Linked DNA regions of Homo sapiens. The protein of the gene in region 2 binds, or shares a complex with, the protein of the main gene of each other region. Each region holds a gene or a part of one and is shown on either strand. Other genes may lie near its edges.

Evidence for each region.
Region 1: SNW1 (region 2) and CWC22 share a complex: the UniProt entries of both Homo sapiens proteins name them as parts of the minor spliceosome.
Region 3: SNW1 (region 2) and SCNM1 share a complex: the UniProt entries of both Homo sapiens proteins name them as parts of the minor spliceosome.
Region 4: SNW1 (region 2) and PLRG1 share a complex: the UniProt entries of both Homo sapiens proteins name them as parts of the minor spliceosome.

What each region holds. Positions count from the first base shown.
Region 1 is NC_000002.12:180,004,271-180,011,445, forward strand, and holds the start of CWC22 (pre-mRNA-splicing factor CWC22 homolog), read right to left. Parts: upstream 3,028-7,175; 5' UTR 2,597-3,027; intron 1-2,596. UniProt on the Homo sapiens protein: Required for pre-mRNA splicing as component of the spliceosome. As a component of the minor spliceosome, involved in the splicing of U12-type introns in pre-mRNAs. Promotes exon-junction complex (EJC) assembly.
Region 2 is NC_000014.9:77,737,152-77,744,178, forward strand, and holds part of SNW1 (SNW domain-containing protein 1), read right to left. Parts: intron 1,911-7,027; coding exon 1,815-1,910; intron 1,734-1,814; coding exon 1,627-1,733; intron 1-1,626. UniProt on the Homo sapiens protein: Involved in pre-mRNA splicing as component of the spliceosome. As a component of the minor spliceosome, involved in the splicing of U12-type introns in pre-mRNAs.
Region 3 is NC_000001.11:151,162,244-151,169,143, reverse strand, and holds the start of SCNM1 (sodium channel modifier 1), read right to left. Parts: upstream 3,001-6,900; 5' UTR 2,992-3,000; coding exon 2,941-2,991; exon of another isoform or gene 2,892-2,940; intron 2,674-2,891; coding exon 2,603-2,673; intron 2,211-2,602; coding exon 2,122-2,210; intron 2,024-2,121; coding exon 1,926-2,023; intron 1,819-1,925; coding exon 1,730-1,818; intron 1,001-1,729; coding exon 806-1,000; intron 159-805; coding exon 59-158; 3' UTR 1-58. Other genes in the region: TNFAIP8L2-SCNM1 protein, read right to left, coding at 59-158, 806-1,000, 1,730-1,818, 1,926-2,023, 2,122-2,210, 2,603-2,619; LYSMD1 (lysM and putative peptidoglycan-binding domain-containing protein 1), read left to right, coding at 3,886-4,065. UniProt on the Homo sapiens protein: As a component of the minor spliceosome, involved in the splicing of U12-type introns in pre-mRNAs. Plays a role in the regulation of primary cilia length and Hedgehog signaling.
Region 4 is NC_000004.12:154,547,390-154,554,427, forward strand, and holds the start of PLRG1 (pleiotropic regulator 1), read right to left. Parts: upstream 3,012-7,038; 5' UTR 2,920-3,011; coding exon 2,911-2,919; intron 1,547-2,910; coding exon 1,440-1,546; intron 465-1,439; coding exon 322-464; intron 1-321. UniProt on the Homo sapiens protein: Involved in pre-mRNA splicing as component of the spliceosome. Component of the PRP19-CDC5L complex that forms an integral part of the spliceosome and is required for activating pre-mRNA splicing.

The DNA.
Region 1 (7,175 bases), on a different chromosome or scaffold from region 2:
GGCATCTGAAATACAAAATGCATCACTGTGTTGTCTTTTGGGTGGTCTCAGGTACAAGCCACTGTAGGTCATTCAACAATGTGCAATCACTGGGAAGGAGAGTTAACTTCTTTTTTTCTTCTTCTTCTTTTTTTTTCTTGAGACAGAGGCTCACTTTATCGCCCAAGCTGGAGTGCAGTGGAGAGAGCTCAGCTCACTGCAACCTCCGCCTCCCAGGTTTAAGTGATTGTCGTGCCTCAGCCACCCGAGTAGCTGGGGCTACAAGCGCACAGCACCACACCCTGCTGATTTTTTTTGTATTTTTAGTAGAGACGGGGTTTCACCATGTTGGCCAGGCTGGTCTATCTCAAGTGATCCGCCCGCCTTGGCCTCCCAAAGTGCTGGGAATGCAGGCATGAGCCATCGCCGCCCCCGCCCCTCGCCCCCCTCCCCCCCAGGAGAGTTAACTTCTAAAAATTCAGCAGCTGGGAAAGCTAACAGAGCTAAGAAAGCTGGCTTAGAAAAACAATTAGGTAGTCTAGGAAGTGTCAGAACTCCAAAAAGTGATTGGAGGTACCCTATCCAAAGCAGGGAAGGATGTGGTGGAATAATAATAAATACTGGCTGGCCATGCATCCAAGTACTTTGGAGCAAGGAGGGCAGCAAACATGATTCTGAGGACGGGGGAGGATGAATCATAGCATGCCCCTAAAGGATGAGCCAGAGCAGAAGTTCTCAAACTAATTGGCATGAGAACTACTCGAATGCTTTCGGAAAAAAAAAAAAAAAAGACAGACAGACTGTTGGGCCTCCATTTCCACGTTTCCGATTCAACAGAACTGGGTGAAGCCCAGTAATTTACATTGCTAACAAGCTTCAAGGAGATGATGCTGCTGATTCAGAAGACATTTTTGGAACCAATACACCAGTGTATTAGATCAAAGTTCTTGGCCTTTAACTTATAACCAAGACAGTCTCAGAGCCCCAGTCAACTGAGTTGGGAAAGACTCCATTAAAGTGGCATGGACACTTAAAACTAGGACACTAGCCGGGAGCGGTGGCTCACGCCTGTAATCCCAGCACTTTGGGAGGCCGAGGCGGGTGGATCACAAGGTCAGGAGACAGACACCATCCTGGCTAACACAGTGAAACCCCGTCTCTACTAAAAATACAAAAAATTAGCCAGGCGTGGTGGCGGGCACCTTAGTCCCAGCTACTTGGGAGGCTGAGGCAGGAGAATGGCATGAACTAGGGAGGCGGAGCTTGCAGTGAGCCGAGATAGCGCCACAGCACTCCAGCCTGGGCGACAGAGTAAGACTCCGTCTCAAACAAAACAAAACAAAACAAAAAACAAAAAACAACTGGAAGGACACTTACAGGTGGAAAGGCAACATTCAGAACCAGAGAACAAGAATTGAGGAACAGAGAGAACTCATCAACTGTATCATAGTAGTAATTTACAATAATACAACGCTAACGCTGTGCTCAGTGCCTCATCTGCATTATTTTTCTTTATACTCAAAAAAAGACAATACAGTGAGGCAGGTATTGTATTACTACCTACATGTTTCCAGATGATGAAGCTGACACTAGAGACTTTAGGTAACTTGCTCCAAGTGACAGACCTAATAATAGCTGGATAAAACAGAAATCTTTGGTCTACTAGTCCATCACCCAGGACCAACACAAGTGGCTTTCCTCCACCTACTGATAACGCCTGTAACAATGCTTCTCCTCTCCTGGTCAAAACCACACTTTTAATGTCAATTTTAAATCTGCCCTTCCATAGTAGGATGATAATTTATGTTAACTCCTGAATTCACAAGCAATCCTAAAACAAGGTAAGTCTAAATACAGATAAGAGGTAGGTTAACTGATCTGCTGAGAACCAAGTTTGCTTGCTTATCTGCTATTTCGAGTCTCTGCACATCTAAAAATGCAAAGGAAACTCTTACCTAATTCTTGCATCTAGAATAGCCTTTCTCCAAATCCTGCCTTCTCCACTTACCTCAGAAGAATTGTTAGGATTAAATGGAAATAGGTACCGTGGTTTTTGCAGTTAAACTCAGTGAAATTAACTATTATATTTCCGTTATATAATGCTGTGTTGTAGGACCCAGAGCTCGTTAGAGAGGTGGAGCCTGGAGACCCAAGTTTGGCAGTTATTACCTCACTGGAGATAGTTCAAGTTATGGAAGGATCAAGAATGACAGATGAAGCGGGCACATGAGAAGCGAAGTGTCTTCAAGACTAAACACTAGACACTATCAGTATTTACAGGGCAAATAAATGAAAAAGAAGACGCTAATGAAATTTAAAACAAATAGTCAAAGGGATATAATGCCGGCAAGAGGCATAAGAGTGCAAGTAATTCAACTAACTTTTAATCAACTAGATCTCATTAATCCCACTCCCCTGACCCTGGGACCCGGGCACTAGGAAAGGGGCTTTGGCAAGCCCCAATGGACTCCAGAGGCTCTAAGTATAAAACGCAGTGCACAAGAAACAACACAGCACCAGCGTTGGTGCAGGATTTCAGACAGCTCCAGGAACTTCACAAGGAAGGTCAGCCGGTCCGCTCAGGCAGTCAGTTCATGGCAGCCCATTCCCTCCCCACCTGCTTGGACCTAGCCGCTCTCACACCCCTCTTGCGGGCCCGAGCGTAGCGAGAAGACCCACGCACACTCCAATGCCGCTCACAGCCGTATCAGTGAGCCCGCACCCACTCCTGGGGGTCTTTTACTTCCCACCCGATCCGGCGACCCGCCACCCCCACTCCGCGTCTCTGCCTGCGGGGACTCCACGGAGTTCGATAATTACCTAGAGCTCCACCGCGCCGCCATTACACCGGACGTACGTCACTTCCTCTTCCCGAGCACCGACGGTAGGAAGAAGGCGAATAGTGAAATATTTAAAAACTTGACGCTCAATTGGCTTGACACGTTATCCCTTTAATTTATTTCAAATACCATATCATAATACCAGAGTCAAAGTAGTCGATCCAGGCACACTGTCTTGTTGCCAAAATGGCGACAAAAAAGAGAAGTTGGCATGAACTACAAAGTCCGAAATCCAGCGCCTGTGCTGACGGAAATGAGGAAAGCATAATTGTAGTTTAGCGTGAAATGGCGCGGTGTACGATGGGAATTGTAGTTCATACAGATGCGCGCCAGCGAGTTAACATCCACGCTGCTCACTGGCAGCCTAGTAGTGTTCAGGGTCTAGCCGAATTTACTTTAAAACTATTTCACTGCATTTTGGGGAAATTTTTTTTAAAAAAGCAGTCAGTTGTCACTTTCCTTGAAAAATCTTAAGAGAGAGATTTTCCTGAGACTTTATAAGAGTTTGACCAACAGTTAAGTGCCTAATAAATTCCAAGATATCCAGGCCATAAGAATGGGAGAATATTAAATCATAAATAGAGTGAAATAATGAGGAAAAACTAATTCTATAGAGACTGTGTTGCCTCTCTTTTAGGTTAAGGTACCAACTGGTATGACCTGAGAATAAAGAGATTGCCTGGCTGAGTAGGAAGTAGCAGTTTGTACAGCGTGCAGAACTAGGGCATCAAACAGTTTCTTTAAACTTCACTTTTCACTAGTAACAAAACCTAAAAGTTCAACTACTTGCTATTTTGGAAACTCTCTTCCTAAACCAAGAATATCTTTATGTTATCAAATCTTTCATAAACCAGGACTGGTTTCTCCACACACTTCTCTATTACAGTTTTAGGGTGCTGTGCTTCCACTCCTTTCTGGAGGCAGAGTGTGATGATTAAGAATAAAAACACTGCAGTTGGACTACTTATTTTGAATCTTGAGTCCTTTTATTATTTATGGATGACTGGGGCAAGTAACTTCACATTCTGTGGCCGTTTCCTGATCTGTTAAATGGAAATACCAATAGTATCCATCCAGGCAGTAGTTTTAAGAATTGAATTAGTTGATACACAAGATGCATTTAAGATAATTGCTAGTATACAATAGTGTTATCTATTTTATTTCATATTTAAGATATTTGGCCATTGTTGATGGTGCATTTTGGTGCACCAATACAGGGCACAGGAGATGGATCTGGAGATGAACATTTGTATTCATATATTTAAAAACCCACAATACTACCGGTGATGGTTAATTCTGAATGTCAACTTGATTGGATTGAAGGATGCAAAGTATTGATCCTGGGTGTATCTGTGAGGGTGTTGCCAAAGGAGATTAACAGTTGAGTCAGTGGACTGGGGAAGACAGACTCACCCTTAATCTGGTGGGAACAATCTAATCAGCTACCATCGAATATAAAGCAGGCAGAAAAATATGAAAAGGCAAGACTGGCCTAGCCTCCCAGCCTATATCTTTCTCCCATGCTGGATGCTTCCTGCCCTCAAACATTGGACTCCAAATTCTTCAGTTGTGAGACTCAGACTGGCTCTCCTTGCTCCTCAAGCTTGCAGACAGCCTATTGTGGGACCTTGTGATTGTGTAAGTTAATACTTAATAAACTCCCCTTTTTATATATATATCCTTATATATAGATATATATATTAGGATATATATATAAGGATATATATAAAAAATAGGATATATATGTAATAGGATATATATACGTGTGTGTGTGCGTGTGTGTGTATCTATCTATCTATCTATCTATCTATCTATCTATCTATCTATATCCTATTAGTTCTGTCCCTCTAGGGAACCCTGATGAATATACTACCTCTACAACTATCAACAGAAATAGGAAAGTTAGGGTTGAGCAGAGGAGAACTAGATGGAGCTGGAAAAGAATTGGATTTGTCAGTTGGGTCCTTCAGGAAGCAGACACTGAGAAAGAGTTATGAATAATAAAGGTGAAAGGAAAATGGAGGAAATAGTAGCTCCAGAATAAAGATGAAGAGGCCTACAATGGGATGAAATGGCTAGGCCCTTGTACCAGTTTTGCTCAGTCACTGGCTAGAGCCACCCCAAGAAGAGTGTGGCCTCAACTAAAAACCCAAGGTGGACATGAAGATTCAACAGTTGAAGGCTGTCACCTAACCACACTGCTTGCAGCTAGGCTACAAGCAAGTCCTTTCTTGAAGAGGTATCTGAGCAGCATCTCTCTGTGCCTGTCACAGTCTCCATACACCCAGTCTCCATACACCTTTCAGGAACAACTTTTCCAGGGTTCTAGTGCACATTTCTTCCTAAAAAAAATTTAGAAGTGGCAAGTTAGTGAGACAAACTACACTCCCCATCTTTGGGTCCTGAGGCCACACTGAATCCATTGCCTCTCTTCTCCACTATTCATTCTAAATTTCCCTTGCTGTCAGCTACTGCTCTACTGCTCTCTATGGTAAACTGGTGGTGTAAAAATCCTAATTCCTGGGAAGTCTGAGCGCCTGGTAGTGATCTTCTTTTCAGGCAGGTGCTGCTGCATTTTTTCATTGATGGTCACTATAAGGTAAGGGATTACCAAGAGATGCTAAAGTGGATCGCCTAAGTACCACATATATTCTTACTTGCTCCCATTGTGTAACAGCAAGCGTATCTCCTCCTGCTGTTTGGATTTAGCTACCTCTGACAAAGCATTGATTCCTTTCTTGCCTACTAGCCCCTGAACTCTAGAAGTCCTGTGTTTCCAGGCACCTGCTGAGCTTAGTTCAGTGGGACACTGTGTCCCCTAGCAAGAATATATCACCTTTGGGGATTAGGACCACCAATTCCACAGAGCTCAGAGTTGCAGGAATGGGAAATACTATGTCCCACCGCAGGTCATTGGGAAAAATGGTGAGTTAGGTTACATTCCTGTTTTCATCCCTTGTTTCCTGGATCCAAGTGTTGTTCTTACTAGGGACCCTGCATCCTGAGAGACAGTACCTCATTCTTGCAGAATATTGTCTTCTAGCTGATACTTTAACTGAATCTTCAGCAGGTCATTCCAGTGCTCTATTAGGCCACCAGCTTCTGGGCATGCAGCATGTGATACATCCAGTGGAACCCATGGTCACAGGCTTGTACCACCTTTGCTATGAAGTAAGTCCTGCTTGGATGTTATGTTGTATTATATTCCACACCTGTGGATCAAGCATTGTGGAAGTCCACAGATACTGGTGCTGGATGAGTCTTGGTGAGTATAAAATGTGAATGCATACCCCAAATAAATATTCCCATAAAATTGAACTGCTAGAATGGAAAGATCTCAATGTAGTCTACTTACCACCAAGTGTCTACTTGATCTCCTAAAGATACGGTGTCAAATTAAGGACCAGTCTCACAGGTTAAGCATTCAGATGAGGCAGTAAGTAAGTAGATCAGCTGTGGTAAGAGGGCTTTGTGCTGATGGGCCTGTGCACATATTCCATTTTTGCCACCCTGGCCATTTTGTTCATGTGTCAATTTTACCAGCACTTGAGGTAGCCACTAATAAAGACAGGTTGACATCAACTGAGTAATTTTTCTACTTTTTTTTTTAGTGCTTACTCCATAGATTATACTTTCTTGTGGACATTGATGTGTGATAAAAATATCTTCACACTTTTTGCTCACACCAATGTGTATATCCACATTCCTCCAAGACCCTCAGGATTCTTTATTTGTGATCTTCTAAACTCATTATTTTCAGGCCTCTGACCAGCCAGCCAGGATGTTTGTCATTTCCTGTAAGTATATTTATATTCTAACCCCGGGCAACTTCTCCCTCTACAGAAAGTGGATGACAAGGTGCATCATCCAAAGCTTTGCCCACTAGGAAGACTGTTTCTCTTCACTGTCTTCAAGGCTATTCTTTAATGAGATTGTAATATAAGCTGCTGCCCAATTTCAGCTTTCATCCACATACTTGGGCAACCCATTCGTAAACTAAGCTCAGCCATTTTTTTTCTTTCTTTAGCTTATTGATCAAGACCACACCTCTGCTCCATATGGTCACCAATATGAGCTGAAGGAGTATTGATGCAACTCTAACAGTGATGTAAGAGTGTATGCTGTCTAATCCTATAGATTGATTGTGATCTTCTTTGTGCTTCATCCCAAATGTAATTCTTTTATCTTACGATGGATTACAGTTCAGCTTCCCAGAACTTATAACCTGGTGTGTCCAACAAGCCAATTTTTTTTTTTTTAGATGGAGTCTCGCTCTATCGCCCAGGCTGGAGTCAAGGTACATTTTGTTTTGTGTCACTTAGTGTCCCACAGTAAGCATTTCCTCTTTACCAGTAG
Region 2 (7,027 bases):
AAGCTAGACTACATTTTCAATTCCTTTCGCAAAGTATTAACAGAAAATTAACAAAATATTTAGACAAAGCAGACAGCAAGAGGGATAAAAGAACATAAATTATGAGTTACAGTCAAAATATAAACTTGAGTGGTATTAGTTTGCAAATAACCCATCCTCATATGTTTTCCAACATGGAAGGTGCCGTGTTCAGTTTCACAGATAAGCAGTCTAGAAAATAGTACCTATTTAGTATGCCTGCATCTGAGGAAAAAACACTCATAATAATCCCAGCAGGCAACTTACGGTTAGCAGTTTTTGATTAATCATAGGTTATAAAACAGAGAAAAGAATAATGACAGCAGCCCTACCAGCTCTGAATTTTTCCTCAATATCTGTATGTGATTCAATTCTCTATGCAGATTTAGTCAAGTAAAACGCCTCAAAATTTAGAAGTATTATAAAGATATCTATTACTTATAAATGGAAAACTATAAATAATAATTGTGATTTAGGTCATATACCACAAGTAACTGTTAATTTCTAAAAACAAAAAATATAATTTGAAAATAGCATAGGGCCAGGCCGGGTGGCTCATGCCTGTAATCCCAGCACATTGGGAGGCCGAGGTGGGCAGATCATCTGAGGTCAGGAGTTTGAGACCAGCCTTGGCCAACGTGGTGAAACCCTGTCTCTACTAAAAATACAAAAATTAGCTGAGCATGGTGGTGCAAGCCTGTAATCCCAGCTACTCAGGAGGTTGAGGCAGGAGAATCGCTTGAACCCAGGAGGCAGAGGTTGCAGTGAGCCAAGATTGTGCCACTGCATTCCAGCCTGGGTGACAGAGTGAGACTCCATCTCAAAAAAAAAAAAAAAAAAAGAAAATAGCATAGGCTGGGCACAGTGGCTCACGCCTATAATCCCAGCACTTTGGGACCTGAGGAGGATGGATCATTTGAGTTCAGGAGTTCGAGACCAGCCTGGCCAACATGGTGAAACCCTGTCTCTACTAAAAAAAATACAAAAATTAGCCAGGTATGGTGGTGGGCACCTGTAATCCCAGCTACTCAGGAGGCTGAGGCAGAAGAATCTCTTGGGAGGCAGAGGTTACAGTGAGCCAAGATCACACCACTGCACTCCAGCCTGGGCAACAGAGCAAGATTCTGTCCCCCACCCCAAAAAAAAGCATAAAAAGAGGCCAAGTCTGGTGGCTCAAGTCTGTAATCTCAGCACTTTGGGATGACAAGGCAGGAGGACTGCTTGAGCCCAGGAGTTCGAAAACAGCCTGAGCATCACAGCGAGACCCTGTCTCTACAAAAAATTAAAATATTAGCCAGGCATGGTGGCATCAAGGCAGGAGGATCACCTGAGCCCAGGAGGTGGGGGCTGCAGTGAGCTGTGTTGGTGTCACCGTACTCCAGCCTGGGCAACACAGAAACTTTATCTCAGAAAACAAACAAAAACCAAAGTGGACACCTTAAAAAATTCTGCTTTCAATTGTCTGCAAAGACAGTAGACAGGCTTTGAGTCATTATTGAAAACAATGCATTTATAATGGTTGCTAAGTGGGTTAGTGAAAGAATACCATGACCCCCCAAGCTGAATCAAGTTCAGAATGAAACTAAGTCTTCTAGGCATGATTCATACCGGATATACTGAGCAGGAGCCAATTTGTCAGCTGCTCGAACTGGCATGGCTGCGGCGACCTTCTGTGATACAGATTTTTCTAAGGCTACTCTTGTCTTTTCTGTTATCTGAAATAGGAAATATCACATTGAGAGTTTGGAAGTTAATCAGGATGTAAATAGTCATCGAATATATCAATTCCCAGTTACCTCTTTAATAGCTTCTTCATCGGGCCTTTGCAGGTCTGGATCATCTGCATTCATAACCTCCTTTGGAACCAGGTCAGTGTATTTGCTATAAATGACCTAAAATGTTCAAACACAAGCAGGCTTAAGAAAAGCAAACAACGAAAAGAAACCTCATTAGCCATTTCAGATGTCAACATGCCCTCTCAGCACACTTAAAAATTTAGGACACTCAGATTTTCTCTTTTAGATTTTAAAACCAAGGAAGCTTAAAATATATAAACAAATTGCTACCCTGGCTGTAAGTTAGTAATTTTCCCTTGACCTCATGCATTTAAATTGTTTGAGATCTTCTAATCAAGTTAGTATCCAAATAAACCATGCCAACAAAATCATGCATTGATGATCACTATTTTTGAGGCCCACTAAAACTTGAAATTAATGATAATACAAATTGCCTATAGCACCATTAACCTGGATTACAAACTCATCAGAATTTAAGTCAGGTTACCAAATAATTTCCAAATTCACTGGGCCTGAAAAATTTTATTGACCTCATCCTATTTATAACGCTTCTCTTTTCTGCCATCAACTCTATTCACAGACTAAGAAAATAAACATGTGCCACAGTTAAAAAACCCAGAATGCTTTCTTCCATGAGAAGACAAAAGAAAAAAAAAAAGAAAAAGAAAAATATATTCTATATATACAACTTATTTTATATCCATTATCCAAATTGAGGCCTGTTATATGACTTCTACTATGCCCAACATGGTTTCTATTAGGCTGACACTGATGTGGTAGGCTCTTAACAAATAGAATACTGGTTACTTTCAGGTCCATCTATACTTCTTAAATATTTTCATAACAATTTACATGGCATATTTTAAAGTAAAAAAGAGATACAGAGGGGCCGGGCGCGGTGGCTCACGCCTGTAATCCCAGCACTTTGGGAGGCTGAGGTGGCTGGATCATGTGGTCAGGAGATCGAAACCATACTAGCTAACATGGTGAAACCCCGTCTCTACTAAAAATACAAAAAATTAGCCAGTTGTGGTGGCAGGCGCCTGTAGTCCCAGCTACTCGGGAGGCTGAGGCAGGAGAATGGCTTTAACCCGGGAGGAAGAGCTTGCAGTAAGCCAAGATTGCGTCACTGCACTCCAGCCTGGGTGACAGAGCAAGACACTGTATATTAAAAAAAAAAAAAAAAAAAAAAAGAGAGAGATACAGAAAATTCAATAAATAATAGGCATTCTACCTTTAATGCTTTAGTCAGAAATTCTTTGAGGTACATAAAAAGAAAGGACAACTTATAAATATCAAAGAAAATCAAATTCCTAGGCACTTGAGATCTCCAGAATTTTTTTTTGTAGAACTGTTTACCACTACAAGCCAAAGTCTTATATTAATAAGTCTATCATACATCATTCATTAAAAAAGTTTAAAGGAAATGCATGCTATTTCTAATTTTCTACTCCAAACAGAGCAAAAAAGTGTGAGCCACTTTATGGCTTATGCAACTTGACCTGACTTTGCCTATGCCTTCAATCTCCCCTTACAACTCTCACTCTCTCACTCATTATGCTTCAGTCACACTAGCTCATCTTCTGTTTCTTGAACATAACATACTTTTCCCCAATTCTAGGCCTTTACAGAGTTCTGTTTATCATTCTTCAAGTAAGCTCTCAATCTGTGTGTCTCAGATCAAAGGTCCTCCATTATCGAGGCTTCTTCTGATTGCCTTAGTAGTAACCCCTCCCCACCCAATCATTTGCTCCATAGCACTGTTTACTGTGATCAAGACTGTTCACAGCATGAAATTATCTACTTTACATGGTTATTATCTGTCTCCCGTATTAAAACAATAAAAACGGGGAGGGCACGGTGGCTCACGCCTGTAATCCCAGCACTTTGGGAGGCCGAGGTGGGTGGATCACCTGAGGTCAGGATTTCAAGACCAGCCTGACCAACATGGTGAAACCCCGTCTCTCCCAAAAACAGAAAAATTAACCAGGCATGGTGGTGGGTGCCTGTAATCTCAGCTACATGAGACGCTGAGGCAGGAGAATCGCTTGAACCCAGGAGACGGAGGTGACAGTGAGCCGAGATCATGCCATTGCACTCCAGCCTGAGCAACAAGAGTGAAACTGTCTCCAAAAAAAAAAAAAAAAAAAAAAGTGTCTCCTGTGCTTTATAATAATGACTGGAGATATTTGATCAATATTTTTTGTACAAATGAATAAATAAATGAATTTTAGAGATATTCTGTTACATGCTAAAGGTGTTTATAGGCCATGAACAGTGACTCACGCCTGTAATCACAGCATTTTGGAAGGCCAAGGTTGGAGGATAGCTTGAGCCCAGGAATTCGAGACCAGCCAGGGCAACATGGCAAGACCTATCTCTATTTTAAAGAATGGATGGATGAATGAATAAATAAATAAGTTTATATTTTAGGCCGTACAGAACTTTCTATAAGCTACTGATTTCCCAGAAAAAACTATCTCATGGCTATACACTAAAATCTCCAGCTTGTTTTTCTCAGGAGTGAGAAGAGGGATCAGGTAAGAAAGCCTAAGATGATTTAGCACAAAACACGTACTACTGATATGTGAGTTATTAGTGTCACCATACTCTAAGAGTGTTGATTTTGGAAGGGACCATAAAGCTCACTCTACTGAAAAGAGTGAGGTTCAGTACATTAAGATCATACAGCTACTATCTGACCTCAAAAGTCTTATTTCCTCTCAGCATGGAAAAACCTATACAACCCTAAGCTGAAAATTATATAACAACACAAGAAAAAAATACCAATTCTATGAAGAGTTAATCATGAGGAGTTTATCACTTCTCCATAGCAACGGTTATAAGGAAAGGATTCTAAGTAAATGGCTCCCTGGTAGTCATGTATGTTCAACATAAAGTGTCAATACTAATTTAGCATACAAGAGTCATTTGCTGCTCCTTATTTGGGCATTCCAAAGTTAATAACCCTTCAAATGAGCATCAATAAGATTCTAGTATCTCACAAGGCTGAGTGAAGGACATCTGAAGAGCAAGATTCCTCCATAGTAATTAATTATAAAACCCCCCATTTTTTTTTTTTTGAGACGAAGTCTTGCTCTTGTTGCCCAAGCTGGAGTGCAATGGCGTGATCTCAGCTCATAGCAACCTCCGCCTCCCGGGTTAAAACCATTCTCCTGCCTCAGCCTCCCTCCCAAGTTGCTGGGATTACAGGCGCATGACACCACGTCCAGCTAATTTTTGTATTTTTATTAGAGATGGGGTTTCACCATGTTGGCCAGGCTGGTCTCGATCTCCTGACCTCAGGCGATCCACCCGCCTCGGCCTCCCAAAGTGCTGGGATTACAGGCGTGAGCCACAGCACCTGGCCAAAACCCCAAATTTTTATAGTCTGAGAATTAAATGTGCTGAGGAAACTGAGTACCAGGAGGCAAATGGGCTGGGGAGCGTTTTCTGAAAAATACAATATACTCTTGAAAGTATCAGAAGCACAAATAAGCTTTGTCAACAAGATAAAGTAGTAACTCATCTGTGAAACAGATATTTTATTACAGAAAACTGGCAAAGAACTAGACTGACTAAAAGGATAAGCCTGTCAAAACATTCACTATGTGAGGTAGAAAGAAAACGCTAATCTAGCTTAGCTAGTGTGTGAAATCATACAAACAAGATAACATATAATTTATCATGGGGTCAGTTTAAAGTTGTTACGGTTTTTTAGGGGTAATACGTTGAAGGCATTCTTTTGGGTATAGTACGTGTGTAACATTTCGTTTCTTTAAGAGATAGGGTTTCATTATATTGCCCAGGCTAGTCTCAAACTCCTGGCCTCAAATGATCCTCCCACCTCAACCTTCCCAAAGTGCTGGGATTACAGGCATGAGCCAATGCACTTGGCCTGTATGTAGTATTTCTTACATAACTATTTCAGAGGGAAAAATACATACACCAAGCCCTTTATTTCAAGATTTATCACTTGGCTGGGTGTGGTGGCTCATGCCTGTAATCCCAGCACTTTAGGAGGCCGAGGTGGGTGGATCACCTGAGGTTGGGAGTTGGAGACTAGCCTGACCAACACGGAGAAACACTGTCTCTACCAAAAATACAAAATTAGTCAGGCGTGGTGGCACATGCCTGTAATCCCAGCTACTCAGGAGGCTGAGGCAGGAGAATCACTTGAACCCGGGAGGCAGAGGTTGCGGTGAGCTGAGATCGTGCCATTGCACCCCAGCCTGGGCAACAAGAGCAAAACTCCGTTTCAAAAAAAAAAAAAGATTTATCACTTTCATAATTAGGAAAAAAAAAGCATTTGGTTGTATCAAGATTTACACTAAAAAAAACTTTTTCATCCCCAATTTTGTATGACTAATAAGTCGTATACACAGTACTTACTTCACATGTAGAGAATTGCCTTAGACTTGTCCTAGAATATTACGTCTTAGAATCCTCACTGATTCTTCTCACCTCTTATACCTAACACCTAGTATTTTCCATTCTTACTCATTCACTATTAATATTTCAGTGAGAACTCCCTCGTTTCTGAAGAATACCAGACCTCTCGGAAGCAAATCAGAAATCTTAGTCCAAATTCATAAATCCAATAACCTGTTCAGTCTCTGGAATAACAAATTTTTTAAATCCTATTTTATATATTATGCAGTCCATTTCTATTTCTTCTAAAACAGGAAAATCAGTGATTGTCAAACAGGGCATCACTGCCACCTCTAACTCCTCTCTCCCAGTGCCTTTGTAAATGTGTGAGGTGTTTCTAGTTAAGACAATGGGGGTAGGATGGGGACGCTACTGGGATTTATAGGTAGTGCCACTTATGCTAAACATTGTACAATGCTGAAGATGGTCCTAAACAATCAAAGTGCTCCCCCAGTGCCAATGGCACATAATAGTTACTTGATTAATGTTGAATTACTCAATGCATTCCAAACTTCATGCATGAATCTATCCACTTCTAGAAAACAAACAAACAAAAAGATATAAACCTGAGAGTGGTCCCAGTTTGGGGTTTGTTTCTAGTGGCTGCATTACAGACAAAAGCAACGATCTGGCCGGGTGTAGTCGCTCATGCCTGTAATCCCATCACTTTGGGAGGTTGCAGTGAGCCAAGATCGTGCCACTGCATTTCAGCCTGGGTGACAGAGTGAGACTCCATCTCAAAAAAAAAAAAAAAGAAAAAAAGAAAATAGCATAGGCTGGGC
Region 3 (6,900 bases), on a different chromosome or scaffold from region 2:
GAAAGTTAAGTTCTCAGCACCCATTGTAATTTATTTGTGAATGAATGGGAAAAGGGTATCAGTCCAAGGGGAGATCAGGTGGTTCCTCCTCATCAGAGTCAAACTCAACATTTTCATCTTTTACCCATCGACCTCGTCCATCTGGGATCCATCCAGAGCTGGAAACATCAGAGAAAATAGCATCGATCAGGAAAGAGGCTTATTAAGAAGTTAGTGGTGAGCTCACACCAGTAATCCCAGCACTCTGGGAGGCCGAGGCAGGTGGATCACTTGAGGTCAGGAGTTCGAGACCAGCCTGACCAACATAGTGAAACCCTGTCTCTACCAAAAAAAAAAAAAAAAAAAAAAAAAAAGTTAGCAGTGAGAAAAAATTGAGAGCCATGTAAGTTGGGTGGCTAAAACAAAACGAAACCAAAGATGGAAAACAACAATGGGAGTCCGGGTGCGGTGGCTCACACCTGTAATCCCAACACTTTAGGAAACTGAGGCAGGTGGATCACCTGAGGTCAGGAGTTCGAGGCCAGCCTGACCAACATGGAGAAACCCCGTCTCTACTAAAAATACAAAATTAGCCGGGCGTGATGGCACATGCCTGTAATCCCAGCTACTCGGGAGCCTGAGGCAGGAGAATCGCTTGAACCCAGGAGGTGGAGGTTACAGTGAGCCGAGAGCGTGCCATTGCACTCCAGCTGGGGCAACAAGAGTGAAACTCCATCTCAAAAAAAAAAAAAGGAAAAACAATAGCTTTGAAACAAGGGTGTCAGAGAGAAAAGAAAATCTGAGGAAACTGATTAGGCATACTCACCTTCGAAGGGTGAGATAATGGTCCAGGGCTCGTCTTCTTGTGGGGCTCATGGGTGCAGGGGCTGAGACAGTTGCTGACTCCTCGGCCTGTGGGCCAGCCGCAGGTTCAGGTTCCCTACTGATCTTCCCACTTTGGAGTTTGACCTCTGAGGGTGGCATAGGGGAAAGGGAGACAGAGGGACCAGGGGCTTCTGGTCTAGGTAGAGAAGAATAGTCTGTAAAAGCAGTAAGGGAAAGGGCCAACTCTCCTATGACTCCCAACCTCTTAAAACAGTGCTTCTTAAACTATATTTCTCAAGATATTAATAAGTTCTGCATACAAAGGATTTCAGAATCATGAATTTGGGAAAGGCTAGCTTAAAATTTTACAAGTTTTTTTTAATCTTAAGACTTTGTATAGTTTTTAAAACTGTTATTCTTCAAGTAGAATTACAAAGTGCCATTTCCCAAACTTTATTTAAAAATCACAAAATTCTCCTTTTCTTTTTCTTTCTTTTCTTTTTTTTTTGAGATGGAGTCTCACTCTGTCACCCAGGCTGGAGTGAAGTGGTGTGACCGTGGCTCACTGCAACCTCTGTCTCCCGGATTCAAGCAATTCTCCTGCCTCAGCCTCTTGAGTAGCTGGGATTACAGGCACACACCACACACCCAGCTAATTTTTTACATTTTTGGTAGAGACAGGATTTCACCATGTTGGCCAGGCTGGTCTTGAACTCCTGACCTCAAGTGATCCACCCACCTCAGCCTCCAAAAGTGCTGGGATTACAGGCGTGAGTCACCGCGCCCAGCCAAAATTCTCCTTTTCTTGAAACACTAAGTAACATCTCCAGAACACTAGTATTCCTCAGAATACACACTGGAAAACTCTTTTAGAGCCATCTGTCTCCTTCTGAGCCTTCCTACCTCTGGCTTTCCCGTCCCATACCTGTACTTCCGGCGGCAGCAACTGTTATAGTGGGGAGCTCTGTGCAGAGCACTCTGGGTGATAAGTCGTGTCTGAGTTAGCAGAGGAGCCTGGTAAGGAGATGGGAGACAGAGTCAGAGCCTTCAGCCCTCCGCCCTTCCAGCCTGGTGTGTGCAGCAGGGTCTTGCCTAGAACACACTCTCCACTCTCTGATTACCTCAGCTTTGGTTTCTTCCCTTCTCAATTCATTCTGATGTTTTGGATTCTGCTTTCTTTCCTTTCCCGGCTGCTTCTTGCCATAGAAAAGCTGCAAGCCTGAGGAGAAAGGGAAACAGAATTAAAAGCATAGCACCAAGAGTGGTGTGCAGAGATTTCGAGGGTTTATTCCCCATCCCGTCTTCCCCCTAACTTACTGGACAGATGTTTCTTGCCTGCACGGTGGGCAGTCAGCATGGCCAGGGTGTCCAGTACCGGTCGATGGGGGCAGATGGCACAAGCAAAGCTGAGCAGGGGTAGAGAAGAGGATAAGTGGTCCAGGGGAAGAGGGTTGGGCCCGTCCCTGCCATAGGTCCCACCCTGTCCTAGCAGTCTTTGCAAAACCCAACTCCCTGGTGACCCAATCTCCACTTCTTCCAGTCCTCACTGGCCGCCAAAGAATCCTAGGTACTCCTGCTGTCCTAATTAATAACAAAAGTTTGTTGAAGCCAGGCGTGGTGGCATGCGCTTGTAAACCCAGCTAATCGCGACGCTGAGGAGGCAGGATCACTTGAGCCCTAGAGTTCGAGGGCAGCCTGGGCAGCACCGCGAGACCTCCGTCTCAAAGGAAAAAAAAAAAAAAGTCTATTGAGCCTCTAACCGCAGAACCCTCAGGCTTGAGCCACTCCTTGCTCTTACCGTCCATCCCGAAGCATCAGCGCCTCATCCTCTGGAATGTAACTGGCTAGGAGGTCCCCGACTCTTCTTTTCTGCAGGGAGTAGGGGAAGAAATCCGGACGGGATCAGCGGGATAGGAGAGAGGGGTGGAAGTGAAATTATAGAAATGAGGAGTGAAATGGAATAAGGACCCTGGGGAGAACAGCGATCATAGACCGAAAAAGGAGTCACTACACAGCTCTAAGTCGCCTGGTTCTCTCCTGCACCCCCGAGTTGTTGCCAGAGCAATGAAACAAAGCTCCTTCCCAACCTTCAGGGAGCGACTGAAGCGGCTCCAGATCCTCTCCGCTCACGCTTACTTTGAGCACATTGAGTTGACTCCAATCGTCTCCTTCCCTCTTGAAAGACATCACGACTGTGAGTCCCAGAAGTGATAAATTCTCTGTTCCGGTTTCGCCACTCCTCCAGGCCACCGTAGCAAGAGCGGGACAGCGCCTTCTCTTTTTTCCTTCTCTTCCTGTCGGCCTCCGTACTTCCGGGGACGCACTTCCACGCATGCATTGCGCGATCCGGAAATCCACTCTCTGGTGCTCGGAGGGAACTGCATTTCCTATGGTGCCCTGCGACTCCGCAGACGCGGAGCCTTTTGGGAAATGAAGTCTTTTCTCAAAGACCTTGCCGCTCAACTGGATCCAGGCCCTTGCATCTTGGCGGATCTGAGGCGTTTGGAGGGACAACAACCTAGATGTGGAGCCGAAATTTGAGGGTGTGACCTATCTTATGCGGAGCGGACCTTTGAGGATCTCTGAGTGGAAGGTGTACTACAAATTCTTGCAATCCTCACGCTCTTCGTCTGCGGCGACAGTTCACCTGGGGTGGGCCTGATTTGTTCCTGACTCTAGCAAACAAACCCCGGGACCGGGGAGAGCTGGGATGTTGGAGCGCCCTGAGGCCAGGCTACTTGGGGGCAAACTGAGGAAAGAGTGTTGAGGATTATTTCTAGAGTTCAAAGGTCAGAGGTCAATGTAGCGAGGAGTTGTGGGGGAGTCCAAAGTCGGAGGGGTGCTTAGGGGAGAATTAGGGAGGGACTGAATACTCAAGGGACAGATTTGTGGATAAGTAGCTTGGAGGGAGGAGAAACCGGGAGGGGGCAGATGGCGTAGTGCTGGGGAGGCGGGGACACAGGGGAAGAGAGAGGGGGAAAGGAATCCCCTGAATATTCATTCCCAGACTTCAGGCCTGTCAGTCGCAGTCTCGGTCGTACCTCCCCTAGTTGCAACCTTAGCTGTTGGCAGGGTGAAGAGATGGCTTCCCCGTCTAGACAGCCCCCGCCAGGGGGGTCAGGACTGCTTCAAGGGAGCCGGGCTCGTTCATATGGAAGCCTGGTGCAATCGGCCTGCTCCCCAGTGAGGGAAAGACGCCTGGAGCATCAGTTGGAGCCCGGAGACACCCTGGCTGGACTAGCACTCAAATATGGGGTGACGGTGAGTTTTCCAGGATTGGGGTGAAGACAACAGTCAGGAGGGATTTAGTCCTGAGAAGAATGTAGTGGCCCTTCTAGGTAACCTCCCCTGAAATGTTCCTAATGTGTTGCACTCTGTTCTGCCTTTATCTTTGTTTTCCCATCACAGTGTTGCACAAGTCCTGCCCTACTATTCCAACGGAGAGGAACAGCTCCTATTTTATTATGCCAGACACTGTGCTGAGGGCTTCACATACGTTAGCTCATTTCACCCTCACATCTGTATCAAGTATACATTTATCGTTCCCTTTTGGCAGATGAAGAAACTGAGACTTGGATTGGTTAACCAGTTTGGCTAAGGTCAAATAATGAGCGTCAGATTTGGGATTCAAACAGGTCTGTCTGACTCTATTAACCACACAGAAAATTTTATGTTGAGAGTGATTAAACGTTTACAGCAACTAATGGAGAGCTGATTTTTAGTTCTCAGTTCCTAAAGTGCCCACCTCTCCTTGCTCTTGGTTCCTCCTCAATGCTCTGCCTTCTTTCCAGTAAGGTGGCCTCCTTTGTGCAAAACAGGTACTCTACACCAAGTATTTCAGGTCATGCATGGGGGAAATTGGATAGATGTAAAAATGTACAGCATTGAAGTTGATGGGGTTACTCCCCCTATCCCTGCCCCTGTTTTCTTGTTCCATCTCACTCAAACAAATGTTGAATTTAGCCAACATTTTTATGCTTGCTGTATTTAAAGCACTGTGATAACTTTTCTGGGAGATAGAAACTTAAACTATATGGTTGCTGTCCTCATGTAATTTATGGCCTAATGAGAAATGAACAGGGACACAAATAATGATTACAAGTGACAGAATGTGGTGAGTTTGTAAAGGTATTAACAACGAATAGGGGTCAGGCATGGTGGCTCACCCCTGTAATCCCAGCACTTTGGGAGGCAGAGGCAAGTGGATCACCTAAGGTTACGAGTACGAGACCAGTCTGGCCAACATGGTGAAACCCTGTCTCTACTAAAAATACAAAAATTAGCCGGGCGTGGTGGTGCTCACCTGTAATCCCAGCTACTCAGGAGGCTGAGGCGGGAGAATCGCTTGAACCCAGGAGGGGGAGGTTGCGATGAGCTGAGATCGCACCACTGCACTCCAGCACTCCAGCCTGGGCAACAGAGTGAGACACACACACACACACACACACACACACACACACAAAGATAGGAAATCAGAAAAGATTAAATTTCAGTTGGAAAGGGGCTGTGGTGGGCCAGGCGTGGTGGCTCATGCCTGTAATCCCAGCACTTTGGGAGGCTGAGGTGGGTGGATTGCTTGAGCTCGGGAGTACAGGACCATTCTGGGCAATGTGGTGAAACCCCATCTCTACAACAAATACAAAAATTAGCCGGGCATGGTGGCATGTGCCTGTAATCCCACCTACTGGGGAGGCTGAGGCAGAGGATCACTTGAGCTGGGGAAGCGGAGGTTTCAGTGAGCCGAGATCGCGCCACTACACTCCAGGCTGGGCGACAGAGTGAGACCTTGTCTCCAAAAAAAGAAAGAAAGAAAGAAAGAAAATACGAATACACTATATCTGTAGTTTCTATATTTCATTATCTAATTATGATAATAATTACATAATTATAAGTAATAGTTTTTAAATAAAGCATTAATGAGCCCCTGCTATGTGTCAAGGTCTGTAGGATGCTAATGACTTCCTGGGGATACAGAGACAGCAAGTCACAATCCTTGCCCTTAAAGGACTTATAGGGTTTAGGCAAAGCAGATATTTAAAGAGGTGAATAATATTATAGTAGGGTTATGTATTATTATAGCAATATTTACAGTATGCATTGGGAGCCCTGAAGAAGGTAGCACAAAGGGAGTGATAGTTGATGAATACAAGTTTTCCAAGCAGAGAATGGGATAGTAGGGGGGTGGGAGCATTTCAGGCAGAAGTAACAGCATGAATAAAGTGTGAAAAAGATCATGGAATGTTCAAAGAAAAATAAAAAGTTCAGGATAGCAAAATGTAGAGGTGGCAGAGGGAGATTAATCTAGACATTTCCTTTGGGAGCTGGATTGAGAAAGCCCTTGAATGCTAATTTGGTTTTTATCTTTTAGCCAGTGCGGAGCCATAGGTGGGTAGTGGGTTAATCAGATTTATTTTTTTAGAAAGATAGATGCCAAGAGGAGGATGAGTAGAAATAGAGCGAGGAAGGCCAGTTAAACTGTTGCAATAACCCCAGATGAGAAATACTGAGGGTCTATTTTAAATCTTTGGCAGTAGGAAGGTGAGACCAGATGTGAGAGAGATTTTTGAAGCAGTTTTGTTGACCACTTGGTATGGTGATGAAAGGCAAGTATTAGTTAAGGATGACATTGATGTTTCTACCTTGGGAGGCCAGGCAGATAGATGGTGATGCCAGTCACTATGTCCAGTGATGAATAAATAGGTCAAAATAAATATTTATTAATGACATTGTTAATAGTATAGTGTGAAAAGCATTCTCAGAAGCAGTGAAAAGACCCAGGATTGTCATTCTAGCTCTGTCATTAACTTGATAGATAATTTTAGGAAAGTAGCTTAACCTCTCTGAGCCTCAGTTCCTTCATTTTTATTTATTCATTAATTTATTTATTCATTTATTTTTAATTTTTTAATTTTTAGAAATGGCGTCTCACTATATTACTCAGGCTGGACTCTAATTCCCGGGCTCAAGCTATCCTCCCTCCTCAGCCTCCTGAGTAGCTGGAATTATAGGCATCAGACATTGCGCCTGGCTTGCACAATAATTTTTTAAAATGTAAGGGGGCCCTAAGACCAAAAAGTGTGAAAACCACTCATCTAT
Region 4 (7,038 bases), on a different chromosome or scaffold from region 2:
CTTTCTGAATTACAGACAAGATAGATGGTGTCCTCACAGGTTAAGAATATTCTCCAATTTTTTCCTTTAATCTCTACTGTGACCTTCTCCACACTCTAAGAATCTCTGCCATCATTATACTACCATTTTTATTTCCTATAAGAAAAAAGTCATCAACAGTATTCCCATGAGGATCAAAACTTCCATTATAATACAGGTACGGCCATTAAATACTGTACGACCACAATAAGTCCTGCCAGGAGGGGCAAAAATAACATATTTTATTTTTCTGTTTTTAAAATTCACATATAAGTCTGACATTTCTGATAATACCATACTCACCTTGATTGGCAGGGTACTGTTTATGAACATATGAATCCGTTGCATTCTGAGGACCCTTCTCTTTAAGATTTTCTTTTGAAGTAGGCATATGCAACACAGGACCATACTCATTACGAAGCTTGATTGCCATTTTTCGTTTGTGACTATTTAGAAATTATAAACATAAGAACGTATCCATAAATACTTTAAAACAAACACTTAGCTTAAGTTTGCCCATTCACGTAGAAAAAGTTTCTAGTATGATTTTAAGTAGTATTTAAAAGAATCAAAAATTTCCAAGGGCATTTCCCCACCATATCTGTTCTTTTGCTTACATTCGACCACACAGCATTCATTAAACCTACGTAATATTTTAGTTTGTTACCTAATAAATAGAAAACCTTTTATGATAAATTGTCAAGGGTCTGACTGAAAGATATACAGAAACTAACATACCCTTTAAGAAACCTCAAAGTCAATATACTTTCCTTCAAAATATAAATATAGTAAAAACTCTATAGCAACCTTTACTAGATGTATCCAAACAGGTTAGTTAGAACTAATCAAAGTACTTAATTGGTTCAATATCTTAAAAAGAAATGCATTTATATTACTTTTAAAAATAGTCTACTTTATAAATTAAATATAAATGCTTGTTTGAGGAGTTAAGTAGATTTTAAAAAGGTAAAGGACAAAGAAGGAACACTGCACATAATGCATTCCCAGACTGGAGCTGGATATGTAGAACCAAAAATATGCCACCACTCAAAAATCTTCATCATACTAACGAGAAAAGATGGGAGTAGAGGTACTAGCCAGGTACAATTTCAGCTCAGCAAGGCTCTGAGAGCAGCGGGAAGCTGAAAGCACATACAAAGTGATTGATTATAAAATAAAATACCTAAAAGGGACTCTCTTAATTACTGGGTATTTGTAAAATGCAATTAATTAATGGAACTTTTACTGTAAAAGGCCAAAAAAAAAAGTTAAATCAGCTTAAATTATGCCAAAACACCACTCATTATTGAATAATTAGCCCATGACTAGCTTATCTTTAAAGGACTCCCTCTCCCTGCTCTCTTCCCCTAGTATTAGAATGTTAAGTATTTTAGCAATTGAAAAAAAAAAACTACACCAACCTCTCTTCATCTAAAGGCACAGGTTTTCCATTATCAGCTACAAACATGTCATGGGTCCTCTTCAACGACCTGAACACAAGGGTGTGTACAGAATGTTTCTGTACCTCCTAAAAAAAAAGAATGTAATTACACACCTATCTACAAATTACACAAATCATAACCTAAAGTCAGATTGATTATACACTTCACGTGTTTAAATATGTAAAAAGCTTTATACCACTCACCATAGCTACTTGTTGCAAGCTACAGGAGTCAAGTTCAGAGAAGAGGAGGAAGCTCCTCTTTGGCTAGAACCTCAGGTTTAGCAACTGAGTGATGCCGGAGTTTAACTTACTCAATAAATATTTACTGAGCTCCTACTGTGTGTCTGGCAGGTATTGTGCTAGAATCTCACAATAGAATGATAAAAAGGTGGTCATGGTCCCTGTGCTCAAGAGGAAACAGACAAATAAAAAGTAAAATAATTCCACATTTTGATAAGTGCTATGAAGGCAACAAGCAAGGCGCTGAGTCAGGGAATGAAGGACTAAGTATAATTGTGAAAGATTTCACTAAGGTGATATTTAAGCAGAAAGGGAGTTAGCCTTGCACAAAACAGAGGTAAGAACGAACCAGGCTGATGGAAATGTCATGTAAAAAAAAGTTCAGTTAACTGAAATAATACAAGGAGCGCAGTACAGCTGTGTATGGAGGATGAGATGGTGCTTTGTAGCTGCAAGGGTAGACAAGGTCCAGATTAGGTAAGGTCTTTTAGACTATTACAACAGCCTATATTTTGTTCTAGCAACATAGGGTCAGTAAAGGGTTTTAAACAAGAAAGGTATGAACAACTTACGTTTTAAACAGAACAACTTATAGAACAAAATGGAAGCAAGGAAACCAACCAACGGGGAGCTAATGCACCAGTCCAGGTGAAAGATGATGTTGGTCTCAATTAAGGTGGACTGCAGCGGATATGGAGAAGAGTGAATGGAATCAATAAACATGTGGGGTAAGATGGACAAGACCAGCTAACAGCGTTGGCTGTTCATGCCAGGGAAAGATGTAAAGAACGGCAAGTTTTTCTGGGGGTAGAGGTGAAATAAGAGACGACCTGAACGCAAGATAGAGAAGACTACCAATCTTTTAGGGCACAGACTCACTGACACTGCCCCGAGGGCGGCAAGTACCAGTGGTCGATCACCAACAGAGGCCCCGCCTCCGAGGACACTTTCCAGCTCCCAAGAGTCAAACGAGGACTGGACGAATTATCTCAGGCTTCGCGCCCAGGCTGAACCTCCGACTCGGGTTCTCATCCGGCTTCTACCCCTTCCCCGAAAACCCGAAGAAGAGACCACTCGGCCTTGGCCAAATAGCTCCCCTCGTAGCCTCTTTTCTCTCTGGACTCCAAGTACTCTCAATCCCCCACGCGCACTGCCAAAAAAAACAGTCCAGAGACAAACGACTCTTGAGAGCCCCAGTGTCACTTTACCTCGACCATGATGCTACCGTGTATCCCACCTCCGGCAGGGAAGAAACTCTAATCACTAACGCAGTACCCGCCGCCACAGCTGTGCAGCACCTTCCGGAATTGGGCGCCCAGGCGGCGGATGTGATGCAAGCTCTGCGCACGCGCGCTAGTCTCCCTCGGCCATCTAGGATCAGGAGGCGGGTCTCCCTCCTCGGGACCGCCTCTAGGGCGGAGTCTCGAGGCTGAAAGCCGGAGACTCCTGGAAGGGCCTGGGTGGAGGGTTTCACTCGTCCCTCTGAAGAAATCTTAGAATTATGTTTTCTGCCTTAGTTGGGGTCCTGGTTGTTCGTGCTGTATTCCCCGGAAGCTTAACGCTTTTTATTCAGAGAACCTAAGCGTCTGGAGAGCAAACTCCCGTGGGCTCTATCTAAGGCATTTCCACTACCTTGATCTCTTTGGAGGTCGCCTGCGTGCTTTGTGTCTCCTGGTTCTAATCCTGGCGAGAAGCACTTGGACACTTGTAGGCTTAACACCTGAAAACAATTTCGCTTAAACAGTCCAGTAAACACTTGTTAAGTGAACGTTGAGGAATAGCTGTTTTAATTTGGAAAATTTTGACATGTAGTTATAACAAAACCCCATATTTATTTTCTGCTAATAGATTTTTTTTTTTAATTTCTCAAAACTGCATAGCTCTTGTCCATTTCCTAGTTGCCTGCTGATTATTGTGGCTTCAACAATGCCAGGGTACAGCTTTTCAAAGCTGGTAGAAGACACAATTGGAGACTTTAGCCATTTTTATTTATACATATCCTTGTGCCAAGTATTGGTATTTTTGCTTTCTACCCTGGTAAAATCTGTGGTTTGTGATCAACCCTACCCAATTATTTTTCTATGTAAAAAAAAAAATGGATGGACTTAGGCATTTACAAACTTAAATAGACAAACATTTTACTGGCCCTGTTTCAGTTTCACTAATCCTGTCCTGAGAGCATACTGCTTACACTTTGAGAGGGGGAAAAAATCTAGCAAAAGAATAGCAATATAAATCAACCTTACTTGGAAATTCATTAAAAACATTAAGGTCATGGGTTTTTGTTTGAGACAGAGTTTCGCTCTTGTCGCCCAGGCTGGAGTGCCATGGCGCGATCTTGGCTCACTGCAACCTCAGCATCCCAGGTTCAAGCTATTCTCCTGCCTCAGCCTCTGGAGTAGCTGGGATTACAGGCGCCCGCCACCATGCCCGGCTAATTTTTGTATTTTTAGTAGAGACAGCGTTTCACCATGTTGGCCAGGCTGGTCTTGAACTCCTGACCTCAGGTGATCCGCCCGCCTCGGCCTCCCAAAGTGCTAGGATTACAGGCATGAGCCACTGAGCCCTGCCTTAAGGTCATGTTTTTACTTGAAGATACAGCATCTCTGAATTTAACTGTGAGTTTGGCCTAAGAATTGCTTTTCTGTAAAGGTGGCAGGTGATGGTATTTCCTTGCAAGAAAATACCATAATTGTAAAATATATACTTGATGAACTAAATAATATACTCACCTATTAATAATAACTATAGAAAATAACATGATTTGAAATGACAATAAAACCATAGAAACCTAAGCAAGACTAATATATATGGCAATATATTAATTGTCTAGTTGGATCTATTAACTTTTTACATATTTAATCATCCTGGAGACATTAATTTAATTTCTCAATAACAACATGGTAATGATTGAGGTAAATTGCCTCGAATTTGCTCCTTTTAAAACACTGTCGTGAATTTATAGAATGATGTCATCCCCTTGAAAGTTTACAATATTTTAGATAAATATAGAACTCAAGTGACCCTATTATTTAGTTCAGGGATTCATGAATTATGTATATTGTAGGAAAATTTTGTATTTATATGGGAATATGTTTTATTTTCTGGAGAAAGGATCCACAAGTTTAATTGGATTCCTGAAAGGCTCCGTCATACACACATGGCCTGGCTGACACCCGAAGCTGCCTTATTTGAACAGCAGGTGTCACCACTGCTCTTTGTACGGGCCCTCAGGGCTGTCCTTAAAGCAGACACGGCAAGTAACTTATTAATATAAATTATTAGTATTATGTCTGTGTAAAACCAAGAATACAAGTTTTAAGGAAAGCCCTCCTTCTTTAGGCAAGATTTTTTAAACTCACCAATACAGAAACTCTTTTTATTCTCCTTCAAATATTGTCCTTTGCTCTTGAACAGTGATAGGTCATATGAGTATAGATTTGAGTGCCATTTTCATCAGCTTTTTATGATATTTTTATAGGAAGTGTTTTCTGATTCTTATAAAATAATAAATATTACTATTTATTTTTCTGTTTCAACTTAGAGGGTTAAATATACAAGCTTTAAAAAACACTATATGCAATGTTCTTTAGAGTTGTGTGGCTCAGTATGTCCATCCCTTAAATTTCATATTTGAAATTGTTCGTTAATTCAAAAGGAAGTAATCATGGGAGTTATCACTGTTTATTTGAATTTCTGAGGTCAAAACCTGTGAAAAATGATACTTGGACATTTCTTCCAAAACTTTGGTCTTTAATTGTTTAGCACAATGCTATGAATTTGCCTAAATACTAAGGTAGTGTTAGCAGATACTTTCTTGTAGCATAGTTGAAACAAGCTTCTGGGACTATAAGGAACAGTGAAGGGGCTGTTCTTCCTGTTAATGCCTGGAAAGACTTTGGGAATAATTAGATTGTACTATCAGTTATAAACTGTCAGTTATAAATATCTTAGCAAGGTGTATGTGTGTGTGTGAGAGAGAGAGAGAGAGTCCTCGGGTCTTACTTATCACAATTTCACCATCCTCTACTACATGAAGCCCCATCTCATGTGTATTAGTTTGCTAGGGCTGATGTAACAAAGTACCACAAACTGGATGGCTTAGACAACAAATGTTTATTGTCTCACAGTTCTGGAGGCAAGAGGCTTGAAATAAAGGCGTTGGCAAAGTTGGTTCCTTCTAAGGGCTGTGAGAGAGAATGTGTTCTATGCCTCTCCCCTAACTTCCAGTAGTTCTCTGGCAGTCTTTGCCGTTTCTTGTCTTCTGCTGCATCACTGTCATGTCTGCCTTCATCTTCACATTTCGTTCTCACTGTGCATATGCCTATGCCAAATTTCTCCTTCTTAAAGAACATCAATCATATTGAATTAAAGGCCCACCCTACTCCAGTATGGCTTCATCTTAACTAATTCCATCCAAAAATACCCTATTTCCAAATAAGGTCACATTCTTAGATACTGGGGGTTAGGAATTCATAATGTGAATTTGGGGGGACACAGTTCAACCCACAACACTATATCACAAAATAAGTGACAATATTGAACATAATCATGACTTTTGTTGTTTACCTTTACAAATAAGAATTTGTACTTACAAATATTTGCAGGCATTTACAAATGTTTTTATTTTACAGAAATATTTTTGGTGTTTATACTGCCACAGAAGAAATAACAATGTCTTGGTTCCAGCTTTCTTAGCTGAATGTTTTGTTGTAATATTTGTTTAAATATCTGTATTTCCCAGTAGACTTATGGGGTGAATATGGCATGATGTTTACTATCACACAGTCAGAATCTAATTGACTTGCAACTGGTAAGTTTTCAATATTTATTGAATGAATGAATAAGTAAGCTATTATATTGTACACTTAAATATGGGTTTAGGTGGCTTTGAGAGCTTAATTTTTTTTGAGACGGAGTCTGGCTCTGCCGGCCAGGTTGAAGTGCAGTGGCACCATCTCAGCTCACTGCAATCTCTGCCTCCTGGATTCAAATGATTCTCCTGCCTCAGCCTCCGGAGTAGCTGGGAATACAGGTGTGCACCACCACGCCTGGCTAATTACTTGTATTTTTAGTAGACATGGGGTTTTACCATGTTGGCCAGGCTAGTCTCGCACTCCCGACCTTAGGTGATCCACCTGTCTCAGCCTCTCAAAGTGCTGGGATTACAGGTGTGAACCACTGAGCCCAGCCGAGACTTTAATTTTGATTTGGAGTTGCAGCTACTGAACATGTAGGAAGGATGGTCTGTGAGTGTGTGTGTGTGTGTGTGTGTGTGTGTGTGTGATGTGCTCACTCCGAAAAGTTGCTATTTCAGTAACCATTAATTTAATCAC